Homo sapiens: one gene and its partners. The protein of the gene in region 1 interacts with the protein of each later gene in a pairwise test. Each region holds a gene or a part of one and is shown on either strand. Other genes may lie near its edges.

What was found.
Region 2: the proteins of FRAT1 (region 1) and TDRD7 interact in a two-hybrid assay, tested with the Homo sapiens proteins (one large-scale study listed by BioGRID and IntAct).
Region 3: the proteins of FRAT1 (region 1) and LMAN2 interact in a two-hybrid assay, tested with the Homo sapiens proteins (one large-scale study listed by BioGRID and IntAct).

Annotation. Positions count from the first base shown.
Region 1 is NC_000010.11:97,317,768-97,322,176, reverse strand, and holds FRAT1 (proto-oncogene FRAT1), read right to left. Parts: upstream 2,907-4,409; 5' UTR 2,724-2,906; coding exon 1,884-2,723; 3' UTR 262-1,883; downstream 1-261. UniProt on the Homo sapiens protein: Positively regulates the Wnt signaling pathway by stabilizing beta-catenin through the association with GSK-3. May play a role in tumor progression and collaborate with PIM1 and MYC in lymphomagenesis.
Region 2 is NC_000009.12:97,481,429-97,485,147, reverse strand, and holds part of TDRD7 (tudor domain-containing protein 7), read right to left. Parts: intron 2,300-3,719; coding exon 1,797-2,299; intron 1-1,796. UniProt on the Homo sapiens protein: Component of specific cytoplasmic RNA granules involved in post-transcriptional regulation of specific genes: probably acts by binding to specific mRNAs and regulating their translation.
Region 3 is NC_000005.10:177,334,669-177,338,168, forward strand, and holds part of LMAN2 (vesicular integral-membrane protein VIP36 precursor), read right to left. Parts: intron 3,118-3,500; coding exon 3,038-3,117; intron 2,857-3,037; coding exon 2,695-2,856; intron 2,583-2,694; coding exon 2,468-2,582; intron 1-2,467. UniProt on the Homo sapiens protein: Plays a role as an intracellular lectin in the early secretory pathway. Interacts with N-acetyl-D-galactosamine and high-mannose type glycans and may also bind to O-linked glycans.

The DNA of each region.
Region 1 (4,409 bases):
AGATAAGCCTCCCAGTTTGCAGTGACTGGCTGATCTGATGTCCTTTGCTAATAGAGGCAGCTTTATAACACATCTCCATCACTGACTAGTAATCCAAAAGGCTCTGAGGTTTTAACGAATGGGATTGGTCCAAAACCTGACCTCACTTTCATTTAATTTCATGCCAGCTCCAATACACACCCAGCTGCGGAGACCTTGTCTAGCTAGTGAGCTGCTCAGACACAAAGGCGCTCTAATTACCATCCACAAGCCAGGCTGACAGAGATTTCAAGTGTTTTCATGTTTATGGAGATCAGAGAAATGTGTTCTGTACATCTTTTTCACTGATGGCAAGTATAAAATAAAACCAAACAAAAAACCCAACACATTTATTCAAAGCAGGCATTTCAGTTAAGTTAAAATCCTATAATCAGGATAGCCACAATTCCAGACACTCCGGTGCGAAGTGTAGATATGTCAGTAGCCACATCTGGATGATGAACAAGCCATTGACTATAAAAACGAGAACAACAGCACAGTCTCAGCGCCTTTAGAGTGAGTGAACAGTATGTTCCAAGCACTTCACCATGGTTCACAATGGCAAAGCCTGCAGCTTCTCCATTTGGAGGGTCACATTTTCTACTCGGTTTCCTGCACTTACAAAGGCCAGCTGGCATGGCTGGGGGAGGGGCAGAGGGAGGAAATCAACTCGTCTATCCAGGGAATTGCAGCTGTTATTGCAAATGGCCCCGGAGAGCCCATTATAAGCTGCTGTGCTAGGCTGTGTGTCCCTGGAGTGTCCATCACATGGCGTCTCCCTAGCCCCCAACCCAGGCCCCCAGGATCCCAGAGCCACCCGCTTGAGTAGGACTGCAGAGCCGAGTAGGAGAGGAGGAACCCAGGGCCCGGTCTCGGGAGTTTCCGTGAAAGCCCGGAGCGCGGCCAGGGGCGGTGGTCGCCTACCGAAGCACAGCCGCCCAGCACGTCCGCGCTTTCCCACACCCGCGGTGGCGGCGACGCGCGTGTCCTCAGGAGACTCCAGCACTTGCAAAACACTGCGCTCTTCTCCGAGCACCGGCAGAACCTGGCTACTCTGTCCCGCAACCCAGTGCGTGCCCAGGAAACAGTGACCTTGAACCGAGGAGAGGCGGGCCGGCTCTGAAAATACACTTTAGACAGGGCGTGGGGTTCACTCCGCGCCTCTCTACCCTTCCACCACCATTCAATACTCCCCGCCCCCACCTCCTTTCCCCACCCGTGTCGTACAGCCTTCCCCCACCACTCTGAGAAGAGAGACAGTTGCAAAGAGAGCGCAGGGGTTAACTCCTATTCAACCCCCAAAGGGTCCCTTCATGGCACCGCATGTTTGGTATTAAGCAGCACCTCCAAAGACACAAGATGGTTTTTTTAAGTCTGGCAGATTGGGCTGCACCCTGAAATTATCTACTCATGTTCTCCTCCCCCAAAGTGGATCAGGAGCCAGCCCTGAAAAGGTAAAGCAAGTAACTGGCATCATCCTCCGTGGTTCCGGCGCACCGCGATCCGGAGAAGCGTGGATTGTGGCCACATGGTCGCGGGGCTGGAGGGCACTGAGAGGCTGCGAGGAAATGCAGGCTCCGCGGCCAGGTCGGGTCACGCCAAATAAGGAGTCCTACTGACTTGTACGTTTGAGGTGCGCTCTGTAAAATCTGCCTTAAATAGGGCCAAAGTCCTTCATTCCAAATATTTTGGCCCTCAACCCCAGTTACCCGCGAAACACTCGCGATTTTTCGGTTCCTCGTCATTAGCTTTTTACTCTCGCTTCCAAAAGCCAGAGTTCTCCACCAGCCTGAGTAGAACTGCAGCCCTCAAGGGAACCCCTTGCCCTCCAGTCTGAGGCTGGCGCTGTGGCCACCCCGGGCGTGTTAGCTGCCAGGCACAAGAACGCCGTCGCCAGTTCTGAGCTGCGCCCTCCCGGAGGCGCCAGGGTCACTGCAGGCCGCGCGAGGGCTGCGAGGCGAAGGGGGTTCATGCACCGGGGCCGACAGAGGTCCCAGGAGCGGGCGTTGGGGAAGCTTTGCACGTAACTGCAGCCGTCGCGAATGAAGCCTTCGCACGGCCTCCTTGATGAGGTTTCCAGAGAGCACTAGCTGCTGCAGAAGCCGGTGCGGGTCGTCGTCGCCTGTGCGGGTTTCTGGTTGGGACCCGCGTCGCTGCTGCAGGCGGCGGGAGGCGGCGGCGCCCCGGAGCCATCCTCGCCGGCACGGACCCGACAGCGGCTGCGGGATGCCCTGCTTGCCAGCTCCCGGAGGCCCATCAAGGTCGGCCTGAGGGGGCAGTGGGGACAGCGCGCTGGGGCCTGTGGCGAGCTCGGCCACGCAGTAGGGCGCAGCGCGGCCCCGCACGCGGCCGCGGTCCCCCAGGGCGCAGCGCAGGACCCCAGGGGGCGCCGGGCCCACAGTCTCCGCCAACGCGGGCGGCAGCAGCAGCGGCACCGCCGGGGACCTGGCCTTGTCCGCCGGCACCGCCGCAGCCAGGGGCCCCGGGGCCCGCAGCGGCGCCCCCGGGGGCCCGCACGGCGAGGCCGGGCTGTGCTGCGCCGCGTCCAGCTGCAGCGTCTCGCCGATCTGGGCCACCAGCCGGTCCACCTCGCCCGAGCTGCCCAGCGCCACTGACTGCTGCAGTAGGAGGAAGCTGTCCTCCTCCTCTTCCTCCCCCTCCGCCTCCTCGCCGGCTTCCTCTTCCTCCTCCCTCCGGCACGGCATGGCCCCCTGTCTGGGCACCCGGAGCTGTGCGGGCGTCGCTGGGGGCTCGGCTGCCGGCGGGCGCGGTGGGCCGCGGCGGAGCGGGCGCGGAGCTGAAGACTAAGTCTGGACCGGGGCCGGGGCGGACGCGGAAGCCGGAGCCCGCCAGGCACTCTAGCCGCGCGCCTGCAGCCGCGGGAGCCGGAATCCTGCCGGCTCGGGTTGATTTGTAAACAATGGGTGACGTCACGTCGGGCCCTACCACCGCGCCGGGGAGGGGGTGCTGTGCCGCTGGGGGACGGCGCTTCTGTGGGATTGGGGGTCTGGGTGAAGCCGGACTGCCTTCTGAGCTCCTTCGCTCAGGGTGCTGTCTGCAAGGGCGCCCTGGGGACCTGATCCTGGCTCCCGCAGTCGGGCGCGATTGGCATTTCCAGAAATGGGCACCAGCGTGAACCCTGTTGGTTTCTTCCACACACAAGCAAGCACGCACACTAACACACACCCACCCACCCACACACCCCTTCTCTCCGTGCGTCAACTCAACCGGTTTTTAGCGTTTGCGCTTTTGAGGTCCGGCATGCGGGCGTCTGGTGAGGATGGAAAGGAAAGGGAGTCAGGCTAGGGATTTGTACGGAGATTAGGGAAATGAAGCTGACGGGAATGGAAAGGAAGAAGGGGACCTTGTCGTTCGATGGAGGTGGCAGAGTTGGAAATGGCAAAGAAAGGCCACAGATTAATGTTTTTTGATCGAGATCCTGGGCGGATGGGGGCCTGGACTGGGGTTGGCATTGCTGGAGAGGAGGTTGCTAGTCTTTTTGTTTATTTGTTTGTTTGTTTTTTTGAGACGGAGTCTCGCTCTATCGCCCAGGCTGGAGTGCAGTGGCTCGATCTCCACTCACTACAACCTCCGCCTCCTGCGTTTAAGCAATTCTCCTGCCTCAGCCTTCCGAGTAGCTGGGATTACAGGCGCCCACCACCACGCCCGGCTAATTTTTGTATTTTTAGTAGAGACGGGGTTTCACCATGTTGGCCAGGCTGGTCTCGAACTCCTGACCTCAGGTGATCCACCCGCCTCAGCCTCCCAAAGTGCTGGGATTACAGGCGTGAGCCACTGCGCCCGGCCTAGGTTGCTACTCTTTTTGTTTTGTTTTGTTTTTTTGAGACAGAGTTTCGCTCTTGTTGCCCAGGCTGGAGTACAATGGCGCAATCTCCGCTCACCACAACTTCCGCCTCCTGGGTTCAAGCAGTTCTCCTGCCTCAGCCTCCCGAGTTGCTGGGATTACAGGCATGCGCCGCCATGCCCAGCCTAATTTTGTGTTTTTAGCAGAGATGGGGTTTCTCCATATTGGTCAGGCTGGTCTGGTACTCCCGACCTCAGGTGATCCACCTGCCTCGGCCTCCCAAAATCCTGGGATTACAAGCGTGAGCCACCACGCCTGGCTATAGGTTGTTAGTCTTAAGAGGGGCTATGTCCAGAAAGTTGTTTAAAAAAAAGCCTCAGACCAGTAGGGGGGATGGGCTCTGAGGAGGTACGTAGTAGCAGAGAAAAATACCTGTTTGGATGAAAATGGAGATACGCTTCCTTCCTTCCTTTCTTCCTTTTCTTTCTCTTTCTTTTCTTTCTTTGACAGAATTTCACTCTGTCACCCAGGCTGGAGTGCAGTGGTGTGATCTGGCTGATTGCAGCCTTGACTTCCCAGGATCAGG
Region 2 (3,719 bases), on another chromosome or scaffold:
TACCATAGTTGGGAACAAAGTTTAGTAAATAGTCCTGAGTCTTAAGGAAGACAGAAGTTCTAAACATTTTATACTGATTCAGTTCATGAAGTTTTAAAAAAATCAGATTATCTGTTTTTATATACAAAACATCCCTTGATTATCTGGGACAAATTAACTAAAGTCCAAGAGTCCTGGGGCAGAATGGTTCAAAGCCATGGAGGGCAGAGTGGGGAGTGCAAGGGCTCATATTGGAGCTCTCCAGTTGATGTGTTCTCCTTCCTACCCAACCCCTTTACTCCAAGGAGGATCTCCTCACCTTTAATCATCAATCTGCCCCCCAGAACATTAGTTTGGTTTTTAACTGTGATTGAATTATCTTACAAAGAGCTCTGATTGAGGCAAACCTACACAAGCTGAATTAAACCTATTTATGCTTGTGGTTATAAATAACACAACAGTAGAAATGGTTTTTTAGAGAAGAAAAGCTTATGACATACAAATTGTATGTTTTTCGAAATGAGAGCTTTTATACGCTTCACTGAGAGTTAAAAATTAGTTTTTTTCTCCCATGAAAATGACAAAACTTTATACATGCCTATGTTTGCTATCTTAAAGAATTAAAACATTTCATATAAAAAATAAGCAGTTTGACCTTTTAAACTGAGTTTTGGGGTGTGTGTGTGTGTGTGTGTGTGTTGGGGAGGGGTGACTGTTCTTTGTGTTCAGCATTGATAAATAAGCTTGTTCATTTCTCCTAAGCAAGCTGGCAAAGGAACAGGATGGGCATTGTGCCATTTCCCAGGGCTTCATGGCCTGAGTGGAAAGTGGACAGTGGGGTGTCTGGGCTTCACTTGGATGAAACCAGCACATCCTGCAGGGCTTTGGGGAGGAGGGTGTGGACCCAAATGTGAAAATATTAGAAAAAACACTGAAGCGCTAAAGAAATGTAAGAGAAAGTATGTTCTCACAGCCCCAAGGCCAAAGAGTAGTGAAATAAGCATTGTTGCTCCTTATGAAAGATGGCACAGATGCCAGGATGCAGCTGACAACATAAAGCAAGAGTCTTGCCATCTTCCAACAAGTGACTTTTCTTCTAGGAATCTATCCCGTAAATAAATAATCAGAAATGCAAAGATTTACATTCACTATTATTTATAATAGTGAAAAATACAGGAGAGAAAACCTTACATAACAAAATAGAATGGTAAGTAAATTATGATTTCATTGGGAAAAAGGAATTCTGTATATCATGATTAAAATAGCCATTATAAAGGTTCCTGAAGAAATTTTATCACATGGAAAAATGTTCATGACATAATGTTAGGTGAAAAAAGCAGGTACAAAATTATACATACTAATAATATACCAACTATATAAATATGCACATATAAAATTAGAGGAAATACATAAGTAGTTTAACAAGTGTTATGTGTGGGTGGTTGATTTTAATTTCTTATGCTTTTTTTATATTTTAAAATTTTTCCATAATATTTTTATTTTTAAAATAAAAAGTCATTAAATGAAAAAATCTGGTTATTTTCTGAATAAAAATATTTTTCTAATAGAAAAATAGAAAAAATATTTAAACATTCATTTTAGTTATATAATTGGGTTTTAACAGGAATATGGCCAATAGATTTTTTGATAAGTGACATCATTTTAAATACTAGAAAATCGGAAAAATTACTGTGTTTGTTTCACATTCAAAATTCCCATTAGTACAGTTCGAAGTCCCCCCGCCAAGATTAAGACTCTGGCATCATTTTACACATTTTTCTTAGGAGTAGAATAAAATGCTTTGTCCAAGGACCTACTTATTTTCCACTTTTGCAGCATACACTTGGTCTTTCTCCACTGCTATGTGGCGCTCTTCAGACACGCTGTAATATAGAATCATCTCTTCCATCAGAACTTCCAACTTATGTATCTCCTGCCAAGGCTGGATGACGAAGTAGCCTGGGTGACAGGCCACAGGCACATACACATCCATGTGTTCCCCTGGCTTTGATAAGTGGACAGGAGGTGGCAGTTCCTCTGTGGAGAAAGCGCTCGTATGGTCCACCATGGACTTTTTGATGACATCTGTGAGGTTCTTTCTGAAATTCTCTCCAGTGTTGCCCGACATGGGCATGTTGCCATTTTTGCTGTTGGGAGAGTCAGCTCCACTGGATATGGCACTCAAAAACACATCCTTCTGATGCTTCCACAAGTCTGCATTTGTAATCTGGCGATTAATACTGCGATGAGGGTCAGGGAAGTTCTTAGGGGTAAATAAATAAACATGTGCGATCCCTCTGGTTTCATCCACTTTTGTAACCTTTGGAAAACACAAAAAATGATATAAGAAATACAAGTTCACATTAAATTTTGAGAGGCAGTTATAGTAACCTTAATCATTAAAACACAGTATTTTGCCAAAACCCTTGCTAAAATCCATTTTATTTAAGGAAAAATAAATTATCACAGCTTGGCAATGAATGGGCTCTGAAGTCAAAATAGTCTAGGGAACAGTGCAGCCTTATGGAAATAAAAAATTTACTAATCTTTAAAAAGTCTGAGAAAACTTTATAACTTGCTAAGGTCATTATCATTGACAGAAAGGATTCTATATATCATGATTAAAATAGTTTAAATTAATGATATTTCGAAACACTTAAAGTAGAAATGATAAGTATGATGAACCCTGATATACTCATCACCCAGCATCAATAATAAAAAACAATCACAATGATGGCAAAATGATTTATGAGCGTTCTGCTTAAGGCTGGTGTGTCCTCAAGACTGGGAAGGGAAGGAAAAAGCTCTGACAACCACCATATCTGTAAGCACCCCTCTTTCAAATTCCTTGTCTGGTCCTAGTATATGTCCTCACCCCTTTCCCCATCGCCAATTACATGGGAGGAGAGGGACCTGGGGAGAAAAAGAGGAAGCAAGCTCCACAGAACGGGTCAAAATTAGTTTTACACTTTTTGTCCAGGAGACCTCTGACTACCTAACCATCTTTGCTCTTTCGGCCAGAGGGGTGTTTGTATGGAAATATCATACATTAATAATTGGGACTGTACTGCTGTGTGTCCCAAGGAGCTAGGTGACTGTTGGCTATTCTCATCAGCAACTCTGGTTTATCTTAGGAATGATAAAAATAAGATACTTCCAGCCACATTTATCTTTTACCAAATAGGGCTAGAAATGAAAGGCAGGAACACAGGTCTGCGGAGAGGGAGATAACAGCAAGGCAACCCATCTACAGTGATTTACTTAAAATTTCTTTTTTTTCCCAACAAGATGCCTCTATTACATTCATCCTCTGAAGTACTAATTAAATACTGACTGCAAATTCATTTTGAAATTTATAATACAGAAGTACAGTTTTAAAAATTAACAAAAAGTACTTTTATTGAGTAACCATCCAATATTCTGGCTTTAGGAGCTTAAAGAGTAGCTGAGAAAACAGTATTATCATGTGACAACTGAAGAATATGGAATAGTATATAATTAAGCATGTAATTGTACACTATAAACCCCAGAGGAATACAAAGACAGAAAAATCACTGCTAGCTAGAATAATTTAGAGGTCTTCATGAAGATATTTTTCAAGGACATTTCATTTTAAATGTTTATATAAAACAGTCATACAATTTCCATCAGTTAACAGAGAAAAACTATCTTCTTAAATTTGTATTCTTGGATATATGAGCAATGTTTTTGATTTAAAGATGCAAAAGTACAGAAAAAGA
Region 3 (3,500 bases), on another chromosome or scaffold:
CTCTTTGAGGCTCATGTTCCGCACATGTAGAGGAGTGATGATCTCCATCTGTGTGGTTGCCATGGCAAGTACATGAGAAGGGTCTACACCACACAGAAGATGGCCTGCCTGCAGAATAAGTGCTCAAAAACAGACCCGGGAAAGACCAACAGTCGCTGTGTGACTGGCTGAGAAGGCTGAGGTCCCAAGGGCAGGAGCCACCAGACATTCTTGCCACAGAGACCCACATACAGGCTGCAGGGGAACAACTCGGCAACCAGCTAAGGGCCTGAGCCTAACGCAGGTCAGCAGCTGTGCCTGAGGAGACTGGGGAAAGGCTCTGTCCAATGGCATGCACAGGGAAGAGCCCTGGCTTGACGCTGATGGATCACCCAATTGTAGAGATGAGGAGGCTGAGGCTCAAAGCCGACACGTGGGTCCTGGTCAGCCTGGGACTGGAATCTGAGGAAAGGCCTTGTTGAAGGGAGCAGGAATCTCTGGAGCCAAGGGGGGACCTAATGAGCAAGAGCTCGGCCAGGCACACAGTGTGAGAGCCGAGCATGCACAGCCCTTGGAGACGGCGAGCGGCCCTGCAGGACAAGGACCGGCCCTGGAGTCAGGCCCCAGTTCCCATCTGGGCTCTGCTGCTTCCTGCTCGTATCTTAGGAAAAATCCTTTCAGTTTTCAAACTCCCAATGGTTGAGTAAAAAGGGAACGAGATGGCCATCTGCCTAAAAATACATCAGGTGACATCACCCGTAAGGTGCCTGGCACTGATGACCCCTGACCAGTGGTCAGACACGGCTCCCCTCATGGTGCCTCCTCCACTCTGTGCTGGGCTCTCCCAACAGCTGTGAGAGCTGCCACCGGCCACAGCACTGGTGCTGCTCTGCTCCTATCAAGAACCCTCCAAAGACAAGGGCTGAAACAGTGTGATGAAGTTCCAGGCAACCCGGGGCAGGAGGGAAACCAGCCAGGCGCGAGCTGGAAATGATGAAAGCTGGTTGGCAGGAAGGGTGCTTACCAGACCTCTCTCCTCTGCTGGGTATGTGACTGAAAAACCCCCAAACAATGGATGTTCTGGGGTCTGAGCGGACCCAAGCACTTCCATGCTGAGAGAGGAGGCTCCTGGGCAGTGGGCAGACTACAGGCCCTGGAATGGGTCATCCTGAGGATAAACCGCCCATGTCAGGTCCCCCGTGTCACGTGCCAGTTCTGGTCAGGAGCTGGCCCTGGGCCTGGCACCTGCTCAGGGCCCCAAAGAGAAACCGAGAACCACAGCCAAGGGCCACCACGGCCTGGTGACCAGTGAGGCCTGAGCAGGTTAGAGGCACCCCAGTGCTCGCTGAGCACCTGCCCTGGGCCAAACAGCCATTTATAGAGCTTACAATTGAGCAGGAGGGCCAGAGACAATAAAATTAATTACTCGGTAGACTCAAAGATGGTAAATATTATGAAGAAAAATAAAGCCAGCAAAGATGCTGGGGAGTGGGCTGGGGACACAGGAGGGGGCACGACATTCCACGAGGGCATCAGGGAAGGCCGCACTGAGGAGGTAACATCTGAGCAAGGCCCTAGGAGACAAGGGTGAAACAGCCGGGGCAGGAGGGCACAGGCGCATCCAGGCAGCAGCTGGAAGCCACAGTAGGCAGGGGGAGCAGTGAGCAGGGAGCCAGAGGTGGCAGGGCTGGCACAGAGGCCCTGGCGCCCCCTGCAGAGCTCTGCGCAGAGCAGCAGGAGGCCTCACACGGGCTGAAGGCGATTACTGAAGGCGATTACACGGCTGCTGTGCTCACGAGAGACTGTTGGGGGCTGGTGAAGGAGGGGACCACTTGGGAGACTCCTGTGAGAGACACTGGTGGCCTGAAGCCGCCAGGTAGTCAGGGAGGGGAGGGAAGTGGTGAGACGTGCTGTGAAAATAAAGCCACAGGGACTGTTGATGGACCAGAGGTGCCATGTGAGAGAAAGAAGGGTCCGGAAAGACAGCAAGCAAATAGAGGGGCACAGGTGCCACTGACATCCCGATGGGCAAGATGTGGCCTCAGCTGTGGGCACAAGGGCTGAGCAGGTCCAGAGCGGTCTGGGCTGGAGATAAATCTGGGAATCTACATTGCCCAAATCTAACTGACCCGCTGCCTCCTGTTGATGGGGAAGGTTGCCAAGGGACCGTTCAAGGCCTGAGGCCCGGACAGGCCATTTACAGAAGAAAGGAGGAGGAGGAACACAGCCAGGTGAGCTCAGAAACCACAGGAACTGAGGCCCGGACAGGCCATTTACAGAAGAAAGGAGGAGGAGGAACACAGCCAGGTGAGCCCAGAAACCACAGGAACTGAGGCCCGGACAGGCCATTTACAGAAGAAAGGAGGAGGAGGAACACAGCCAGGTGAGCTCAGAAACCACATGAAGGCAGGCAATCAACTGCATGGAAAGCTCCCAGTCCCTCAGGGTGAGCTGGGCTGGGAACCAACGCCTGGCCCGGCCCACTCACCAGACAGGTCGCCGGTGCCGGCGGAGGCCCCGAAGTAGTAGCCGGTGGGCAGGCGCACTCCCGTGATGTCAATGCAGTTCTTCCACTCGTTCTTGTCCTCCAGGTCGGTCATCACCTGCAGGGCCCAGCACGCTAAGCACCTCGCAGGACAGCAGCCTGCCCTCCTGAGCCTCTGTGGGACCAGCACAGGGCCACCAGCTGCCACCCCCACCGCCTAGCCTGCTCACCGTCAGACGGCCCCGGGAGTAGCGCACAGCCAGGAAGGTGTCGTGATCGCGGTTGCGGAAGTCAGCCGTGCAGCCCGCCAGCTCGGTCCAGCGCCCATCCTTGCTGTGGTCGTAGGACAGGGAGCCATTGTTCACCATCACCGAGATGTACGGGAACACGCGCTGGGACCAAGACATCGGTTACTCCACAAGCAGCCCAGCCTGTGGGGCGAGCAGGGGCACCCACCACCCCAATCCCTGGAGGCTCCTCTTGTGCTGGGACCATGGAAGTCCCAGGGCCCCCTCCTCTAGCCGACTGCCCAGTCCTTCCTTTCCTGCTCAGCAGGATAGAGCAGGGGCCTACCTCAGTGGTCTCATCATTGGGGTAGGTGTCCAGGAAGATGGCTAAGCCGTGGAAGTTATCTTTGCTTCCAAACACAGGCCCTAGAATTATAAGCAGATGCTCTCAGAATGGGAGAAACAGGAGCCGTCCCATGGGTACCTAAAAGGCAAGCAATGCCAACATGGGTGGGGGCAAGAGAGCCCAACCCACTGGCCATTCACCGAGAGAGAAGGGATCGTGAAAGGAGAAAGCTGAGGCTTTCTCCTCAGAAGTGGGGGGTCTAGGCATATGACACAGAGGACTCAAGTTTGAAGGCTGAACTGTGAGGGGACTGAGGCAGATGTCAGGTGTCAAGGGGGTACCTGGCCTACAAAAAACAGTGAGCCACAGGACAGCCCTACCCAGGAGGCTCTACCCTCTATACTAGGGGCAGCAAACATTCTGTGAAGAGCCACCAAGGAAACACCTCAGGGTCTGTGGGCCA